2 linked regions of the Homo sapiens genome follow. The main gene of each other region encodes a partner of the protein of the gene in region 2 in a complex. Each region holds a gene or a part of one and is shown on either strand. Other genes may lie near its edges.

Region 1 (10,773 bases), on a different chromosome or scaffold from region 2:
TCGGTATCGTCATCTTCGGAGAGATCGTGCCCCAGGCCATCTGCTCCCGGCATGGCCTGGCTGTGGGGGCCAACACCATCTTCCTCACCAAGTTTTTCATGATGATGACCTTCCCCGCTTCCTACCCGGTCAGCAAGCTGCTGGACTGCGTCCTGGGCCAGGAGATAGGCACCGTCTATAACCGGGAAAAACTGCTGGAGATGCTCCGGGTCACCGATCCCTACAACGACCTCGTTAAGGAGGAGCTGAACATCATCCAAGGGGCGCTGGAGCTCCGCACCAAGACGGTGGAGGACGTGATGACCCCACTCCGGGACTGCTTCATGATCACCGGCGAAGCCATCCTGGACTTCAACACCATGTCTGAGATCATGGAGAGCGGCTACACCCGCATTCCAGTGTTTGAAGGGGAGCGCTCCAATATCGTGGACCTGCTGTTTGTCAAAGACTTGGCCTTCGTGGATCCCGATGACTGTACCCCCCTGAAAACCATCACCAAATTTTATAACCACCCCTTGCACTTTGTTTTCAATGACACCAAGTTGGACGCTATGCTGGAAGAATTTAAGAAAGGTGGGAAATTTTGGTCTCTTTCATTGGCTTGCTCTTTCTCTCTCCATCCTCCTCCCTACTTGAGTCCTCTACCCTCAGACCAACCCCCCAAGGCGAGTTGACCGGGATTTCTCCTTCTCCCTCTTAATTGCAAAGTTGAAAGGGTGGCGTGGATTTGGGGATGGATTGAACTAGTAAGTGCTACTAGGTTATTTTAAAGCACAAGACTGCCATCACTTACTTTTTCCCATTATCAAAAAGCAGGCTGTGTAATTTCTGTGCATGACACTTATTTATTTTTTTTTTTTTGGTCCCGTGTGTGGGCCTCTGTTCTTGAGGGGTCTGCCGCCTTCATTGTCTGGGTTCTCAGTGAGTAGGTGAAGGTAGGGGCTGGCTGATGCCATGCCATTTGGTGGACTTTAATCACAGGCATTTGGAAAACATGTAACTAGCTTTTGTAAACCCAGTGCAGTCCTTTTTCTCCTCCTTAAACATCCACACTGGCCTTTCAAAGATCGAAGTACATTTTCTATAGCTTCTGTTCCTGCTTGCCTGGCAACTTGTGGGGAAGATTGAGGTCTGCCTTTGAGGGTAAGGGGTGGGGTAAACTAAGTATCGCCAAAAAAAATCACCCATTTTGGATGTGACTTCTCTTAGCTAGAAAAGAGTTGTTGTTGTTGTTTTAAATTAAAGTTATTAATATGTAACTTGGAAAGATTAGAGGTTAGCCAGCCTTTTGTGAAGAGGCTGTATGTCCCGTAGCCTTCTTCACTATTTGTTTACATTTATCTGACAACAGTTACAGTTGCCCAAACCAAGTGTGATTTTGGCAGAAAGCTTGAACCTTTAACAGTGGGATGAATCCCTCTATTGGGGCTTATTTATTTCTTGACTCTTTCAGTTTAACGTGTTCTTTTTTTCCACCTTGATCATCCGATACATTAAGTTGAAGTATGTCTCCGTCAACTCTCACCGTTCCAAGATGCTTATACAGTACATCATTTATATTTGTTCGTTTGACCATATAATGAACAGGTAAATAGCAACTTGTACTATTATTATTGAAGTTCTGAATGTTTCCAGTAAATAGTGTTATTTGAAAACCAAGGGATGCTGAGTTTTTGAATTATTAAGATGCTAGGGCATGTGCAGGTATTGAAATGTGTATGTAACCTTTCGTGACCTGATAGTCCTCAAAACCAAGTTTCCCTTCTTCAAATAGAATTTTGATCACTGGTAGTAGTCTCTCCTCTGAAAAAGGTGATATGTACCTGGTGACAGCTCACTGGATGTGATGATCTGAACATACTCAAAGAGTGTATGGTTGTCCTAATGCCATTTTTCTGGTTGAATGATGTCCTCTCTAGAACAGGATCACATTGTAGTAAGTTTTATGTAAAGGAACAGGGCAGAATGTGCTTTGAAGATTGGTAAATTTGCATTTAAAAGCAGAAGGAGGTTCTTCTGGTTTCTTAAATAGTAAAAAGAAAATGTCCAGTATCTCTAGGTGACATAGCTTCTTTTGGGGGTGTCATTCTTTCACCACTAAGTTGTTAATTAGAGCATCTAACTTCTTTCATTTTGCAGTAATATCTGTAATACAGAAAGATATATTGGGATGTTTGGAAATGCCCCTGAAAGTCTTTCTATTGCTAAATTTCCCAATATTGATACAGATGATCTATTGCATGAGTTTTTTATTACTTAGAATTTTGCACATTTACTCATGAATTGATAACACTAGTTTGTACTTCTTGCTGAAGTCTTTTCTTCACTTCTATATCTTTTTACCTTGAGAATTTAGTTTTTCACCTCACAGCTCCTTAATGCCGCCCTTACTCAAAATTTCAAAATTCGTATTATTTTGAAATTTGTGCTTGATTGACCTTGAACAATTTTTCTATGATGGATTTATTTTCATGAGGAGCTGTTTTTCCTTCAGAATTACCACTCAGTATTTTTTTGAAATGTATTCTTTAAATGATGGAATTACTAATATTTCCCTATGAATTCTAGAAAAATAATAATGCACAAGATTTAATTTTTGTCTTTAACTAGAATGATGTATTTGGTTAAGAAGATAGTCCAAGTTAAAGGCATACATTCAAGCTAGTGGCATATTCGGAAGAGCAGGCAAAGATAGTTGGTTGCAAATGGGAAATTTAAGCCATGATCTTAAAAGGACAGAATGGATATTTGTTACTTAAACTATGGGAATAATTGATTTTTTCACCTTCCCTTTCTTGGATTTTTTTTTTATTATCAGTTTGGTTACTTTAACCTTACTGTCAGTTATATTGGTTCTTTTTTTTATGTCTGAGTTAAAACATTTTACCTGATTTTCATGTCTTCATTTTCTAAATCAATTATGACAGTGTTAACAATCAACCTTTTATTTTTCTCTACTGAATAACGGCGTATTAAATGGTTTGAAGACTTTTTCTTCCTCTACCTCTCTCCTAAATTCCTCATTTACAAAAGAAAACCCAAAACAAAACAAACAACCCCAACAATACCAATTGTAACTCCCCAGACCAGTTAGATCATAGATCCAGATCTCATTGAAAATTATCCTTTTGGCTAGGCATGGTGGCTCATGCCCGTAATCCCAGCACTTTGGGAGGCCAAGGTGGGCAGATGGCTTGAGCCCAAGAGTTTGAGACTAGCCTGGGCTACCTGGTGACACCCCGTGCCTACAAAAAATACAAAAATTAGCTGGGCGTGGTGGTGTGTGCCTGTGGTCCCAGCTCCTTGGGAGGCCTGAGGTGGGAGGATTCCTTGAGCCTGGGAGGCGGAGATTGCAATGAGCTGAGATGGTGCCATTGCACTACAGCCTTGGGGACAAAGACCCTGTCTCAAAAAAAAAAAAAAAAAAGAAACAAAATTGTCCTTCCTAGTTAAGAACTTCTGTATTGAAGACTTTCCTGTATATAGCTGTAGAGAATTAGTCTGAGTTGTTCTTTATTAAAGAGGAGGAAATAGAATGTTCTGAATGTGGGAAGAAAAGCCACCTTTATATTAGTATATGTGAATGTCTTCTTTCTTCTTCCTTTTTTTTTTCCCCAAGAGACAAGGTCTCACTGTGTTGCCCAGGCTGGATTCGAACTGTGATTGTCTTTTTTCTCTGGCTACCAGGAAACTCTTGGCTTTATTTGAGACAGTAATTGTGCTGATTTTACAGTTTGATCATGATGATGGTGATGATTATTACTTACCTATGTATTCTGTGCCAGGTACAGGGGCTGGGGCTTTATATGAATCACCTTGTTTAAATCTCAAATGGCTGAATGAAGTATTATCTCCATTTTACAAATGAGGAAATTGACTTGGGTGAAATGATTTGTTCAAGGTCACACAGTAATTTGTGCCTTGGGGTTTTAACTTAGGTCTTTGTGACACCAGAACCTGCTCTCTTAACCTCTCTCTTATGCTGCTCTCCTTGATCCTGGTTTGACATTTCTATTTTACTGAGTGTGAGGTTTAGTCTTTTGTCTCAACACTGCCTCAGAGCCTGTTGGGCAATAGAAAAGAAATGTGTTTAAACATATATATGGCTTTAAACCCAGTGCTTCTGTGGTGTTGTGCATAACAACTGGTGTCCCCTTTTTTGCCATTAAAACAGTTTTTTGGCCTGTGTGATCCTAAGTCTAAAGAATTGTGTTGACAGCATTTGCATATCCAGCATCAAGATTCATTTTGGAAAGTTTTGTACTAACAATGTGCTGTACTAATGTGCTTCTTCCATGGGCTGCTCTACAGCTGTTTTTCCCATAGCTAAATTATGTAATCATGTTTCACTATTGGTTTCTTATCTGTTTCTGTTGCAAGGGTCACATAGTAATTGGTCAAACTCAGTTTTGTGTTTTAATCTTGGTTTTTATTTACATTTTTGAATCTATCTGTATAACTGGTTGCTAATGAGCATCCTTTACACAACTCTGCTCTCTGTATTCCATGCAAGGAACCTTTCTCTTTTTTTGTGTGTGTTAGTTTTGTAGTTACTTACAAGTCTAAATAAGAGAATAAATTCAGTAAATACCGCTAGAGGATTATGAGAATTTTAGAAAAACTAGAGCAATGTAGTGTAGGGGAAGGAAAAGCAAAATGAAAGGCTGCCACCTTTGTGTGTGGAAAGCATGTTAGAGGCTCTCCATTCACCTGACAAAACCGTCCTCACAAAAGATTGGGCCACCAAGTTGTCTATGCTGAGGTGCATTTGAAGAATTTGTAACCAGTTACTGTTTCATTGTTTTTCTTTTAGCTTTATAACAGTTGCATTCCAGTATTGCAGAGCATGCTATTTACAGCTGCTAGGGACTTAGCCAGCCTCTTTTCTAGCTTTTTCTTAGTAACAGGTGGGATCACCAGATAATGTTGTTCTTCAAGGAAAGAATGCACTGTACAGTTTTCACCTAAGATATTAGGTAATTTCTTTCTATAACTCAGCAAATCTCTCCATATTAATATACTGAGAGCTTAATATTAAACACATTTTTTTCTCACCAAATTAAGTGTTGTATTTGCCTTGAATCTAGGAAGTTGTTTTTTTTTTTTTAATTATTTTATACGTATTTGTTAGGGTCTTGCTATGTTGCCCAGGCCTGGTCTTGAACTCCTGGCCTCAAGCAATCCTCCCATCTGAGCCTTCCAAGGTGCTGGGATTACAGGTGCATGCCACCATGCCTGGCCAGAAGATGTTTTTATTAGTGTTTAAAGGTATGAATGGTGTCACCGGGAGCTGATATATTTGTTTTCATGATGTTGTACATTTATTTTTGTGCAGTAACATACATTAAATGATTGTAATTTTGTGTGTTTTTAGAACACTATTATGAAATATCCAGATAATACAGAATCAGAGCTGGAAGGCAGGCAGCTTGAGGATTATCTAGTCCAGTGTTTGCCAGATTTACCTGATGATAAGATTTACTTGGGGCTGGGTGCGGTGGCTCACGCCTGTAATCCAGGCACTTTGGGAGGCTGAGACGGGTGGATCACCTGAGGAAGGGAATTCAAGACCAGCCTGACCAACATGGAGAGACCTTGTCTCTGCTGAAAATACAAAATTAGCCGGGCATGGTGGCACATGCCTGTAATCCCAACTACTCGGGAGGCTGAGGCAGGAGGATTGCTTGAACCCGGGAGGCGGAGGCTGTGGTGAACTGAGATCGCACCATTGCATTCCAGCCTGGGCAACAAGAGCGAAACTCCATCTCAAAAAAAAAAAAAAAAAAAAAAAAAAAAAAGATTTACTTGGGTCACTTAATAAGAGTAAGGTCTTAGGCCTCACCCAGAGACCTCTGAATTGGGAAAGAGCTTTTGGAATCCATGTCGTTTACAGTTTCCCTGGGGTACTTCTTATGGTTAGGTGAGTTTAGGAAAAACTGGTCTAGTCAGCCCCTTGATTAAGGAAAGTAAACCCTGAGAAAGAGAAAAAACAAAGTAAATGACCTATTTAGGGCCACCTACCTAGCTAGTAGCATCAACTGAACTAGATCCCATGTCCCTGACTTCTAGATTGGAGTTCTTCCTGCTCCAGCAGGCTGGTCTTCTGGTCCCAAGTTATTCAGAGATGAAGGTAGCAGCATCATTGAAAAAACAAATAGTGAGTGTTACCGTTGGTTTTTATTGGTCTCGTGATTTTCCTGTCAATATGTTAGATGCCCTGGATTCAAGCAATTTTTGACAAGCATTTTATTATATAGAAAATAAGTCCAAGTGTGTGAGCTCATTTTTATTTAATTTTATGTTTTATTTTTATCTTAGTTTAACTGAGTTTTTTACTTTGTTGTGGTTAGACTAGGAGGGTATTTTAGGAAATGAGTGTTGATACCTAGGTTATTTGAAGCCTCAGGTAATTAAATATAAGATGTTTTATTTGACTTAGCTTATTTTGGATATCCTTTAATGATTTGTTTTCTCATTGATTATTTCTTCTGTGAGAGTAATGATGATTGGATTTGGTTAGGACTGTGGGGGTGAAGCTTCCTTGACTTTTCATTTCTGTTCACAGTACATACAGATCTGTAAAATTTCCATGGAAATGTTCATCAAAGCATTTGAAGCCCATGTCCTATTCGTGCATTTGTGTACCCTCTGTACCACACACCTCCCAAGTTTTAACAAATAATATAAGTGAAATTCTCACAGAGAATCATGCTGATTTGTAGAAGTTATTGCGTTACTAGGATCACCGAAGTCTGAGCATAGACATTTAGGTGAGGAGAGACCCTAGTTAAATACCAGCCCTGACTAAGTAGGAGCTGGATGAAGCGGGAAAGGAACTTGTCTGCGTTTTCTCTTGGTTTTTATGGGGATTACACACTATCTTTCCTGAAGCATTCTTAACCATTGTGAGGGGCTGGTTAATTTTAATTATTAGCAAATCTAAACACAATTTAAAATATCATCAACCAAGAAAACCCACAAAACAGACTGAACTGTTCTGTGGGTTTTCCTGCTTTTACTTATTTATTTTCAAAACAGGGTCTTGCTCTGTTACCCAGGCTGGAATGCAGTGGTGCTAGCTAGCATAGCTCACTGCAGCCTCGACCTCCCAGGTTCGAGTGATCCTCCCATCTCAGCCTCCAGAGTACCTGGGACCACAGGCGTGTGCCACCACACCCAGCTAATTTTTTTTTTTTTTTTTTTTTGAGATGGAGTCTCGCACTGTTGCCCAGGCTGGAGTGCAGTGGCACGATATCGGCTCACTGCAAGCTCCACCTCCTGGGCTCATGCCATTCTCATGCCTCAGCTTCCCGAGAAGCTGGGATTACAGGCACCCGCTGCCATGCCCGGCTAATTTTTTTTGTATTTTTAGTAGAAACGAGGTCATGCCATGTTGTCCAGGCTGATCTTGAACTCCTGGGCTCAAGTGATCTGCCTTCCTCGGCCTCCTGAAGTGCTGGGATTACAAGCATGAGACACCATGCCTGACCCCTGCTTTTATTTTCAATATAAAATTTTATGTTTACAAGCGTGAGCCACCACACCCAGCCTTACATAAACTTTTAAGAGCAAACCTGTAGAGTGTAATTAGATGCGTAGTTACTTATAAAGTGGTATATATTTTTCAAATGAGCCCTTTTCTCTAAATATATATATATGTGTGTATGTATATGTTATTGACAGTAAACTTTCAATTCATTAAGATTTGCTTGACATATAAAGAGTACTATTAAACTCAAACATGTGGAAGTGGATCACTAGGATTGAATACAGTTTTTTAAAGTATTGTCTTTTCATCTCTTTTTGTTTTTCTCAGAACACACAAACAAGAAACCCAAATCATACCAACACTGAAAAGAAGAGACAATAAGAAGCATTCTTTCTTTCAACATCACAGACATTGGCAACTCTAGGATGTCTATACAGAGGGATAAAAAGGGGTGGCAGTTGGCTGGGCGTGGTGGCTCATGCCTGTAATCCCGGCACTTTGGGAGGCCCAGGGAGGTGGATCACTTGAGGTCAGGAGTTCCAGACTGACAGTCTGGCCACCATGGTGAAACCCCGTTTCTAATAAAAATACAGAAAAATTAGCTGTGCGTGGTGGTGGGTGCTTGAATTCCCAGCTTCTTGGGAGGCTGAGACAGGAGAATCACTTGAACTTAGGTGGCGGAGGTTGCCGTGAGCTGAGATCACGTCACTGGACGACAAAGTGAGACTCTGTCTCAAAAAAAAAGGAGGGGGTGGTGGCAGGCTTTCGAAGGAGGAACTAGAGGTTTGTGGTCTAGCTTAGATGTTGATGGATAATGGGGATGCCAAACCCTCTCCCTGTGTTACATTAGTGCTATGACTGAACATAAACACTGCTGTAATGGACGGTGAGATCTTCGTGTCATCCTATTTAACCCTCCCTTGCTGTCATTCGGAGGTGGGAGTGCTTCTTTTTGAATTCACATGCTGTGGGGAGGATAGCATCTGTTAATGCAAAGGTTAAGAACAATGTGCTCTTCCTGGATCTGTTTTGGACAAGTAACTTATCCTCTTTAACCCTAAGTTTTTTTCAAAGTAAAATGGGGATATTTTCTAACTCATATGGTACTTAGTAAGAATTATTGTACTAATAAATATATAAATGTTTCTAACAGTACCTGGCACTTTGTGCTTAACCAGTATTTTTATTATAACAATTCTTTCTGTAGGCTCTTGGTTGTTATCTTAGTCTGTTTGTGCTGCTGTAACAAAATACCACAGACTGGGTAACTTAAAAATAATAGAAGGTGGCCGGGCATTGTGGCTCATGCTTGTAATCCCTGCACTTTGGGAGGCCGAGGCGGGTGGATCACCTGAGGTAAGATCACCAGCCTGGCCAACATGATGAAACCCTGTCTCTACTAAAAACACAAAAAATTAGCCAGCTGTGGTGGTGGGCGCCTGTAATTCCAGCTACTCAGGAGGCTGAGGGAGGAGAATCTCTTGAACCCATGAGGTGGAGGTTGCAGTGAGCCGGGATTGCGCCACTGCACTCCAGCCTGGGCAACAAGAGTGAAACTCTGTCTCAAAAAAAAAAAAAAAAAGAAATTTATTTCTCAGTTCTAGAGGCTGGGAAGTCCAAGATCAAGACACTGGCACTGGCGTCTGGTGAGAGCCTTCATATGGCATCCTCACATAGCAGAGAAATGGAAGGTGAAAAGGGCCTAAGCTAGTTCCCTCCAGCACTTGTATGAGGCGCTGGTTCAGAGTCCCCATGGCTTAATCACTTCCCCCAAAGGCCCCACCTCTTAATATCACTACTGTGGGGATTAAGTGTCAACATGAAATTTTGAGAGGACGCATTCAAACCATAGCAATTGTTCTTGGTCATTCTCTTGACTGGAGCCTGATAGTCAAGAGAGACATTTTAGCGTGTGTCCTTATAATTATTATTGGTGTTGAAATCTAAAAGTGGCTAGGCTCGCTGGGCGTGGTGGCTCATGCCTGTAATCCCAGCACTTTGGGAGGCCTAGGTGGGTGGATCACTTGAGGTCAGGAGTTCAAGACCAGCATGGCCAACATGGTGAAACCCAGTCTCCACTAAAAATACAAAAATTAGCCGGGCGTGGTGGCATGTGCCTGTAGTCCCAGCTACTTAGGAGGCTGAGGTGGGAGAATTGCTTGAACCCAGGGGGCTGAGGTTGCAGTGAGCCGAGATCATGCCACTGTACTCCGCCTGTGCGACAGAGCGAGACTCTGTCTCAAAACAAGAAAAAAAAGAGTGGCTAGGCTGGGTGCAGTGGCTCATGTCTGTAATCCCAGCACTTTAGGAAGCTTTTAGGAAAGCTGAGGCAGAAGGATTGCTTGAATCTAGGAGTTTGAGGCTGCAATGAGCTGTGATTGTACTACTGCATTCCAGCCTGGGTGACAGAGCAAGAGCATGTCTTTTTTAAAAAAAAAAAAAAAAAGTGACTAGTTATTGTAGGTTTTTTCTTTTCCTTTTTGTTGTGATTGAATCCTAAGCTTTGTTATTTTCCTAGCAGTTGACAAGGTGACTACATGCATATATATTTTTAAGGAAAACAGAACAATTTATTATAGGTTCTACTTTCCTTAGAGTAAGAATACTGTGTTTTAAAATAATTCTTCATTCTCTTTAATCATAAACAACTGAAAAAGACAACAAGTCTTTTGAGTTGTTTATCCGCTCATCCGTTGATAGACATTTAGACAGTTTCCACTTTTTGGCCATTATGATTGGTTATTATGAATAATGCTGCTGTGAACATTGGCATGCATTTTAAAAGCAAGTGCTTGTGGATTTTGGAAGCCCTTGAATAACCAAAGACTTTTAAGACTAAAGGAAGATCAAAAAAGATAAAATATTTTAACACTGATTGCATAAAAAGTATAAAAAATGGTAATGCCTAATATAGCAAGTTTGTATTGCTTATAGCAGTGTAAATTTATAATGATTTTGGAAGGCAACTGGGTGTCATAAAAATGATTTAGTATTTTTTTCCCCTGGAAATCTTAATTCAGTGATCCAAGAGAAGAAAAGAGCTATGTTAGCTTTTTATGTTGTATGTGTGTTGCAGCGTTATCTAGAAACAGTGAAAAATTGGAAGTAAATATCTAACACTTCAAGGCAAGGAGTGGAGGAGAAAGAGTTAAGAAAATTATAAATGTGAACTATTTCCAACCATTCAGTGATAATCTTGAAAGCCACATAGCAATATGGGAAAATTTGCACTGATTATTTGCACGGAATATAGACATGCAAAAAAATATATATATGTATACACT
Region 2 (10,773 bases):
AACATTTCTTATAATGCTTATCTGCTAGCAATAAATTCCTTCAGATTTTGTATGTCTGAAAAAGTCTAGTCTTTATTTTTACTTTCTTTTTAAAAGAGACTTTTGCTGGATATTAGTTGACAGTTTTTTCCCTTTCAGATGCTGCTCCAATGTCTTCTTACTTGCATTTTTCCAGTGAAAAAATGTGATGCCATCCTTATTTTTATTCTTACTCATGTAACATCTTTTATCTGCTTTTAAGGTATTTTCTTTGTACTACTTTGTTCTCAAGAGAAAAAAAAAACCAAAAGGATGTGTGTTTATATGCATATTTATATGTATGTATAGGTGCATGTATGGATATAAATATATACCTTTGTTTATATATATATATATAAATAGAGACAGAGAAATACTTTAAGAAATTGGCTCACACAATTACAGTTGCTATAAACCCAAAATCTACAGTTTGGGCTGGCAGGCTGGAGACCCAGGAAAGAATCAATACGCAGTTCAAGTCCAAAGGCCATTTACTGAAGAATTCCCTCTTGTTCCAGGGAGGCAAGTCTTTTATTCTATTCAGGCCTTCAACTGGCTGGATGAGGCCAAACCACATTATGGAGGACAATCTGTCAAAATCCGCAGATTTAAGTATTAAGTTCATCCCAAACTACCCTTATAGAAATATCCAGACTAATGTCTGACTACATATTTGGGCACTGGGACCCAGCCAGTTACACACAAAATTAAACATCATATTCTTTATCACCGGTTTTGAACAATTTTATTATGATGTGCCTTGGTATAGTTATATTCACGTTTCTTTCTCTCTCTCTCTTTTTTTCCCCCACAAGAGATGGGGTCTCTCTCTCTGTCACCCAGGTTGGAGTAAAGCAGTGTGATCACAGCTCATTGCAGCCTCAAACTCCTGGGATCAAGCAATCCTCCTACTTCTGCCTCACAAGTAGCTGGGACTACAGGCAAGCACCAACACATGCAGCTAATTTATTTATTTATTTATTTGTAGAGATGGGGGTCTTACTATGTTGCCCAAGCTGGTGTCAAATTCCTGGCCTCAAGTGATACTTCCGCCTCAGCTTCTCAAAGTATTGGGATTACAAGTGTGAGCCACTGTGCCCAGCCTTGCTCATGTTCCTTTTGTTTGGGGTTCAGTGAGCTTCTTGGATCTGTAGGTGTAGAGTTTTCTTCATGTTCAACAATGTTTCAGCCATTATTTCTTCAAATATTTTTCTGTCCCTTTCCACTCACCTTCATGGACTCAAATTACCCTAGCTTAGGTTTAAAGTTGTCCCATAGCTCGCTGGATGCTCTTTGCATTTTTTTCTCTCTCAGATTGTCTCTATGAACAGATACAATACAGTGATAATAACAGTTTTAATGTCCCCCTTTGCTACTTCTAATATTTACATCAGTTCTGGGTCAGTTCCAATTCGATGATTATTCTCATTATGAATCATGATTTCTGGCCTCTTCCCATCCCTGATAATCTTTGACTGACTGGCAGACATTGTGAATTTTACCTTGTTGAGTGATGAATATTTTTTCTTTAAATCCTATACAGCTTTGTGCTGAGATGCATTACATTACCAGACAACCATCTGAGGTTTTGGGACTTGCTAATATTATCTGTCATGTGAGTCCAGAGTGGTACTCCACTTACGGCTGACCTTGCCAAGTACTCTACCCAGTTCCTTGTGAGTTATAAGTTTTTCAGTCCATCTGGTGATTACAGGCATAGTTTTCAACCCTGTATGAACACCAACCACTGTTCCCTCTAGTCCTTTAAGATGGTTCTTGCCCTGGCCTTGGGAAGTTTCCTCACATGCATGCATTGAATATTTTGCTGGATACTCAAGGGAGACTCTGAAAATCTTTAGTGTTCTCTCTCTGTACAACTCTTTTCTCTGGTATTCTATTCTATGAACATTAGCCATCTTGGTCTCCCCTTGCTCTCGGCTTCATCTCCTCAATGCAGGGAGTTCACTGAGCTCCACCTCAGCTCCCTCTGGAACTGTGCCACAGCCTGGAAACTCTCAAGGCATTAAGCTGGGACAATCACAGAGCACATCTCATTTGTTTCTCATTTCTCAGGGATAACTGCGTTTCCTGGCTTGAAAATTGTTGCTTTGTATATTTCATGAGCTGGTTGCTGTTGTTGTTCTTCTTCTTTTAGATGGGAGAGTAAACTAGTTCCAGTTATTCCATCTTACCAGAACAAGAAGTCCTCACTCATCCTTGTGCTCACTGCCCTCTCTTGAGCATATTCAGTCTTGCCTTTTCCCCTGATGACCACCCTAAACCTCTGACTACTAGCATGCTCAAGAGACCTTTTCTTATAGAAACAAATTCTCTTAGCACTATTTTCTCTTTTTCTGTCCACCTTCTTGAAAGAACTGTCTATATTCCAAAGAGTTAAGGAGTGAAAACGATGGTCTACCCCTCAATTCCTTTGCTTGCTCTTCATCCCCTCAATTCTCAGGTTGGTTTCCACCTCAATACTCTACTGAAACTGTTTCTACCATTAGTTATTAATTACCACGTTGTCACCACATCCAATGGCCTTTCTCAGACTTTAGACTTACGTTTACCTTATTTGACTGGTTCTTTTGATTTCTTGCCCATATTTGACTTAAAGGATATTATATAGAACTGTCTGACCTATATTCCTTATCAAAAGCAGATGCTGTAATGTAAGCTCCAAAGAGCAGGGTTGTTTGTATATTTTGTTAACTGATATATCCTCAGTCCTTAAATCAGTGGCAGTCACATAACAGACATTCAATGAATGTGGAATGAATTAACAAAATATAATTGGTGCTTAGCACCTTTCTTCCCGCTTTCTACCCATTACCCCTGGACAAGCTCATCCAAATCTATGACTGAGTTGTCTCTCAAATCTCTCTAGTCTGCTTGGCTTTTAGCATTTGGATCACTGTTGGATGTCTTGTCAAACCTCAAAATCAGCATGCCCCAAACTAAACTCATTATTTTTATCTTAAAACTCTGTCACATTCTCCCTACTTTTTTTTTTTTTAACAATTCACCAAAACATAAAGCTATAAACTTGACTCATATTTGATTGTTTTATCTTCCTTTCCTCTTGAATACCCAGCATAACTGTCACTTTTACAGTAGCAGTAACATCCCCACAAGTATTGTCCCTGCTGGATCACCTCTACATCTAACAGGTCTCCCCCAACAGCTTCTCTAAGTCTCTAGCCTTAGATCCCAACATCCCCTAAATCTCTGCATGCTGTGCCTTAACCCAGTAAGACCACTAATCTTTCTCTGAATATACCTATGCTTTCTATCCCTAACTCTCCTCACCCCATTCCTCTCTGCTTAGACCTTACCCATCATATGAGACCCTACTCAAATGTAACCTTAACTATGAGCTTTCTTTGACCCTCCAGATTAGAAATGATCACTCTCCTCTTTTAACTTTCATATTTACACCATTAATATAACACATATCACATTCTGTCTTAGCACAGAGCCTGGAGTATATTAAATAAGCAATATATGTGAACTGTTTTTATCAATACACAACTTATCTTCCTAACCTGGGTGTAAACTTCTTGATGGCAGCTTCCTCCAAAGAGGCCTCCAAAAAGACATTATGCCAGGTTCAGAACAATGACAACTCAAAGAAGCTTGATATCCAAAAAATTAGCCAACCTAACAACTAATTCATCAGAAAATAGACTAGTGCACAATTCTGGTAAAACGTATTATTAAAAAATTTCATAAAAACAAACACAAAACATAACTTACAAGTAAGAAAATTATATACAGATAATCTTTTACACTATAATTCAAAACTGCTCCTCTAGCAATAGTGCTAGAAGATAACTCTGATAAGTGAAGAAAAGCATACTTTGTGTTACTCTTACACATATTTTAGAAGCTATTTTGATTGAAAAGACTTAAGCTAATAAAGTTTATATAACTTCATTGCACATTACTCAAAAGATATTCACAGTTTTATAAACAACCAATAAAGTACCTACTTCCACCAGAAATCCTAAACCTTGGATACCACTAAACTTCACTTGAACACCTGAACTGGCATCCTATCTCTAGCTATGTAACAATAGCCATGTCACCATACCTTTGATCTTCAGGTAATTTAGAAACAGAATATGGAAAAAGATTCCTACCTGTCATATAAGGGCTGTTATAAGGCTAACAGAAGACTATATAGATTCAATTTACTTTCATTTGCTTATTAACAGACATCTGTATCCATGCCTAAACCTTGTGACAGACTCTGGGTATACAATACCACATATGATGCTCTAGCTGCCCTTAAGAGATTCTAACCCAAGATGGGGAGATGGGCACATACATAAAGCAGTGCTACAGGCACTAACTGGGAGAAATACGGACAACGCCCAGTGGGGAGAGGAGGGAGTACTCAGTTCTGTCCAAGGAGAAAAGAAGGTAGTCAGAAACAGCTTCCTGCAAAGAGGCTACACATGAGCTCTGCTAATCTTCTCTGGGGTCTCTACTCATTACAATCCCCTTATCCTTTCCCTCATCCTAAAATCAAGCAATGTCTCTAACCCTTTAACAGCTCCACAGTTTCTTATCTCAATTCTAAAATCTGAAAAGCTCTCAAAACCTGCACTTTTTTAAAACTTACTTGCCGGCAAAAGCTGACGTGAACTGAAGTAAGGTTCTTGATCAACAATATCCTTTCTACTTTTTGTAGGAAATCCTAGTTAATAATTCCATCATCCAACCATCACGTAAGCCAGGAATTGAGACAGCCATGGCTTTCTCACTCTCACCCTCCAAACCCAACTACACTAGGCTTTGTCAATTCTAGCTCTCAAATATATATCCTACCTATTCCTTCCTCTTCTTCCCCCTGTAACTGCCTCAGCCAAGGCCTTCATCATCTCAGTTGCACCATCACAGTAATCTTCTGCCTCCGCCTCCAACTGCGCTACTCACAATTTAGCCTCCACATCATGGCCAGCTTGATTCTTCTCAAATGGACATCTGATCATGTAGTTTCCTTGCTTAAAATACTCTGATGTCTCTGCACTATCTACACGAAAAGCCCAAACTCCTGAGCACAGTATGAAAGGTCTGCTAAGATTCAGCCACCACTGAATACAATTTGTCTCCTGGCACTCTATTAAACATACACTGCAGCCACACACAAATGCAGTTTCTAGGAGTTGCCAATCTGTTTGACACTCCTTACCTTCACACTGCCCCTCTGCTCCTAAGTCCTCTTTCTTTTCCACCCCCTCACCTTATTTCTTGTACCAGACCTACTTATCAACCTCAAATCTAATGTAGCAAACCAAATCATGCATCCTTCCCTTCCCCAGGTCCAGGCAACACTGTCATGCCCCTTCCTTCCATGCCCCATCTATTTCTGGATATGAACTTAATGTTTATGCAGCCAGTATACTGAGACTCCTGGAATGCTGAAATCATCGCTTATCTCATGTCTAACACTGGACCTAGCACATAGTAGGTGCTCAAAATAAGCTGGCTGATGAACAATCTTTTCAACTTTCCAGAAAACATCTCACCCTTCTCCTTCCTTCTCAGCTCTCTCTGCACAGCAGCTCTGTTCTCTATCTCTTACAGCTGTTCTTCCATTATTTCCTCTTATACTCTTCTTTCCTTCTTCATTGTCAGAAGAGAAAGAGGACACATTTGGGAAGTGAAGAAAAACCCTAGCCAGGATTTCTCACTAATAACTTGACACTGAAAACATTTTGGGCCTGATAACTCTTTGCTGTGGGGGCTGCCCTGTACATTGAAGGATGTTTAGTAGCACCACTGGCCTCTATCCACCAGAAGCCAGTAATACCCCTCCCCACAAATGACTCCAAAATGTCCCACTCAGAGGCATAATCTCCCCTGATTGAGAACCACTGCCCTAGACTGACTTTGCTTGGCTCCATCAGGAAGCAATAGGGGAAGGCTGATGCATGATCTCTTGCACTGACTTTCCTCCAGGTGAAAAATGACAAGGAAAGAAGATTCAGACTACATCAGTTTACTATTCAGGGAGTGTGTGGCCAAGAAACATAGGCTGGAGTGACACTTCAAGGAAGGAAAGTACTCTATGGGCCCAAGATGAATCCATTTTGTCATATATCAGAGTTCCAGATTTCAGGATTCATTTGTATTAATATTTTCCCAAGCTTCATTTATTCAGTGCCACTGAAATGACCTGCTAGAGGGATATAGGATACAGCAATTTAATGCTATTAAATTCATTTCAAATCTTTTTTGAAAAAGAGATAGTGTTTAAAATTAAAATAAACTGATTAAAGCATTAAACTATAAGTAGAAGGGAGGGGATAAATTGCACAGGAAACTAGGACATCTTGGGATGAGAAAGAAGAAGGGACAGAACCCCAGCACAGTACCCACCTGTGGTCGACACGACGTTATCGGGGCTTTCACTGCAGAGTTTGGACAACAGACTGGTTTTGCCAGAACCTGTGAGGCCTATGCAAACCAGGTCATATTCTGGTCGTGCAGGTGGTGGTCCCTTGCAGCAAAGTGCTCTAAAACACTGCCAAAAGAAGGGGAAAAAAATGTTCCTTTAAATGACAGTATGGAAATAAACCATAGTCACATTTAAAATGACTGAGTAAGTATTAAGAGGTAATTGAATAAAGTATTACCTATAAGGAAGAAAACGGTAACTTTAGAACAGTGAAACCTGGAGACACCACTCTAGCCAAGTGATCAAAGTTAACATTCTTAGTTATGAAATGTTTTTCTACTTCATGCCTCCCTTCCTGCTATGGCAGGTGCACTGCAAAAAGCATGACATCATCCCACAGCTTGCCTGCCAAAACCACACAATCTGAATCTAAGCATGAGGAAACCAGATAAAGCCAATCTAAGGAGTATTCCATAAGGCAACTGGCCTGTTCTCCTCCAAAATATCAATGTCTTAAAAGTCAAAGAAAGACTGAGGAACTGTTCCATGTTAAAGAAGACTAAAAAGACATAATAATAAAATGCAATATATCTTGGACTGGATCCTAGATCAAAAGGGGAAAAAAAAAGCCATAAATGACATTATTGAGACAATAAGTGAACACTGAATATAGACTGCATATTAGATAAGAGTACTGTATAAGGTTAAATTTCCTGAATTTAATCAATGTACTGTGGTTATGTAAGAAAAATCATTGTTCTGAGAAAATATTCTAATTATTTATAATACCTCTAAGTATTTAGAGGTGAAGGGTCTTGATGTCCACAATTAACTGGCTCAGAAAAATCTAAATCTCCAGCTCCATCTTTATCTGGTGAGGAGAGTGACAAAGCCAACATGGCAAAATGTTAATGACTAGTGATGCTGAGTAAAGAGAATAGAGGAAAACTCCTTGTTCTGGTCTTACCACTGATATTATTTCAAAATACAAAAATTTTTAAAATCATTAAATAGAGTCTCTATACATACCACTGCCTTTCTGGCCTTTGCTAAATTCTTTTTCAGGTCAATCAACCAGGGTACTATGAACTGTAGTATAGTTTGCTCTGCAAGAGTTAAAGACAAGGGGATCTGGGCCAGGCACAGTGGCTCAGGCCTGTAATCCCAGCACTTTGGGACCAGTCTGGCCAATGTGGTGAAACCCAGTCTGTACTAAAAATACAAAAAGAAATTAGCCAGGCATGGTGGCAGGCACCTGTAATTCCAGCTACTCAGGGGACTGAGGCAGGAGAATCACTTGAATCTGGGTGGCAGAGGTTGCAGTGAGCCAAGGTCACACTATTGCACTCCAGCCTGGGCAAAAAGAGCGAGACTCCATCTCAGAAAAAAAAAAAAAAGAAAAGAAAAGAAAGAAAGAAAGAAAAACAAGAGGATTTGGGAGACAGGGTATCATTTGTGCAGCTTTTGATCTTTCTACTTATCCCATATCCATAGGGGCCAACTATGTGCCAGCTTATAGAGCCTGAAACATTTAGACCCTGAATGATTCATGAGAGAAAGAGGGAAAGGGGGAGACAGGGAGGAAAGAAGGCAGATCCACTCACTTTTGGGTCATCTGGAGATTACGAGAGAAGAGACCTATAAAAAAGCCTGTGTTGATTCATCTCACTCAGATAAAATCTGAGTACTAATTGGCTGTCATACTCTCGTAAATCAAACTTGATTATTTCTCTCCCTCATTTCTCACATCTAATCAACAAATCTAGTTCATATGACCTCTGAAGTAGCTCTAGGATCTGTCCACTTCTGTCCAGCCCAGGCCATCATCACCTGAACAACATCAATATCCTCCCACTAGTTCCAGTATATTTGCTCTTGTGCCCCCTATTCTCCACATTGCAGTGACTGGATTGCTTATAAAGAGAAAATCTGACCATACGTGCTTAAGCCACCCCAGTGACTTTGCCCAGCTCTCGAGCCCAAACCCTTACCATGGTCTACCCCACACTCCATGATCTGCTCCAGCCAAGCTCACCAGCCTCATTGCCCTCACTCCCCTACATCCTCCAGCCATGCCCTCTCTTACCTCAACTGAGGCATCTAATATGCTGTTCCTTCTTCCCCCAATTCTGGACTTAGCCAACACCTCATCATTTTTAGGTCTCAACTTAATCATCCCATCCTCAGGGCAGTCTGCTCCAATCCTAAGATTGTGTTAGCAATTCACGTCCAGCTCTACTGGGCTTTTATAAATTCATTACACAGACAATTGCAGTTTCTTATTCATCACCAGCCTGTGAGAACCATGTCTGTCCCCCTTCATCTCAGTACTCCCAGTGTCTAGCAGAGAACATGGCATAGAATCTACCCTCAGCAGATAATTGTTGAATGAAGAATGAACGACACTTAAATTTTACCTAAGCAAAGAAAAAAGAAAACATAGAGACTAACAGGATGCTTGATCTATGTTCTCTGAGCCCTCCACGCTTCAAGAAAATACTGTCAAAATAAGAAACCGCTGACTTTTTCACTTCGCTTCAATGCCATTAGTTAGCCTAGTTCCCAAAAGAGTGGTTTTGGTGTACAGGATCAACTTTCTTGGTAAATTAGAGCTTCTTTTTGTCCTAAATTCACTTTTCCTCTGTTCTCAAGAGGTTCTGCCTGCTTCTGGTAAACAATTCTATGACCCATATTCTTCATGGGTTTATTCATGCTAATTGTATTTCCTCTCAGTCTTTTCAAGCCTGAGGAGTCCTACTTATTTCAGTCTGTCTTCATCCTATGAGATGTTCTTCTCTGATCTTCCTTTAGTTCCAGCACACCCTCTCCCACAAGATTAATGACCATAACTACTAACAGCATTCTAAACGCCAACACATCACTTCATGGATTCATATGAAGGCTGGCTGATACTGTCTGACTTTAACAAGCTTTTTTATAAAGTCTGTCTCCCAGACTCAGAATGAGAGTTTTTCTCAGAGATAGGTTTATTTGTGTATGTGTCTGTTCCCTCAAAGATGGCCATGGCTAGCAGCTGTTCAGACTTAGAAGTGGTCTTCCACATTCAATTAGGACAGACAACAAAACTAGTCACACAGTTTCTTTTACTGGGCTGCGTTGGTCTTGTTTGGGGTTCAAGGAGGAGAGATCCCATTCCTGCCCTAGAGGCCTTCATTCTCACTCAGCTCCTTGCCAGAATTCCTCTGGACTATCTCCTGGAGGAGGGCTGGCCTGACTACCCTGGCCCAAACTATCATAAACCTTAAATATCAAATGAAACTGTATGTGAATGATTGCTAGAGCATCCGGTTTAAATTATTCATGTCGTTATCACTCATATTTTTGCCAAACACTCCAGAATTTCATCTTCATGTTCTTTTTAAAATCCAGAGTAGAAAAACTTTGTAGCCAACTCCATTAATATCTATTTTACCTGTTTATTCTAGGTCACCTAAGCCACTTCTGACATAAAAGATGATTTTGCAATGATAGCAGTGATATTCTACTCCACTGTCTTTTCTCTTCTTTCTTTCTTTCTTTTTTTTTTTTCAGACAGAGTTTCACTCTTGTTGCCCGGGCTGGAGTGCAATGGCACAATCTCGGCTCACAGCAACCTCCACCTCCCGGGTTCAAGTGATTCTCGTGCCTCGGCTTCCTGAGTAGCTGGGATTACAGGTATGCGCCACCACACCCAGCTAATTTTTGTATTTTTAGTAGAGACGGGGTTTCACCATGTTGGCCAGGCTGGTCTTGAACTCTCGACTTCAGGTGATCCACTCACCTCAGCCTCCCAAAGTGCTGGGATTACAGGTGTGAGCCACCATGCCCAGCCTTCTCTTCTCTTTCTTTTTCTCTCTTTTTTTTTTTTTTAAGACAGTCTGTCTCTGTCACTCAGGCTGGAGTGCAGTGGTGCAATCTCCACTCACTGCAACCTCCAAATCCCAGGCTCAAGCAATCCTCCCACCTCAGCCTCCCGAGTAGCTGGGATTACAAGTGTGCACCACCACACCCAGCTAATTTTTGTATCTTTGTAGAGATGGGGTTTCACCATGTTGCTCAGGCTGGTCTCCATCTCCTGAGCTCAGGTGATCCACTCACCCCGGCTGCCCAAAGTGCTGAGATTACACACGTGAGCCACTGAGCCTGGTCTCTCTTCCCTTTTTATATTCTCACCAGTGATATCATCTCCAGTCCCATGGTTTCAATCATATAACCGAATGTCATAAGGACATCCAACATGACATCTCCCCCTCCGTCTCCCCAAGCTCTTTCTCTAAGTCCAGGCTCTATAGTTCCAGCTGTTCTATAAGAACCCAAACCAAAACTGAATAAAACAAAAGCCTCCCCAC

The links.
Region 1: the proteins of ARL15 (region 2) and CNNM2 are in contact, whole or in part, in a crystal structure (PDB 8F6D), measured with the Homo sapiens proteins. Residues at the interface, in NP_061960.1 of Homo sapiens: Tyr92, Ser94, Arg95, Gln98, Gln128, His129, Pro130, Gln131, Cys133; in NP_060119.3 of Homo sapiens: Asn490, Val492, Pro521, Leu522, His523, Phe524, Val525, Phe526, Thr529, Glu537, Lys542, Ser543, Gln549.

What each region holds. Positions count from the first base shown.
Region 1 is NC_000010.11:102,919,529-102,930,301, forward strand, and holds part of CNNM2 (metal transporter CNNM2), read left to right. Parts: coding exon 1-573; intron 574-7,816; coding exon of another isoform or gene 7,817-7,854; exon of another isoform or gene 7,855-8,090; intron 8,091-10,773.
Region 2 is NC_000005.10:54,165,379-54,176,151, forward strand, and holds part of ARL15 (ADP-ribosylation factor-like protein 15), read right to left. Parts: intron 6,551-10,773; coding exon 6,406-6,550; intron 1-6,405.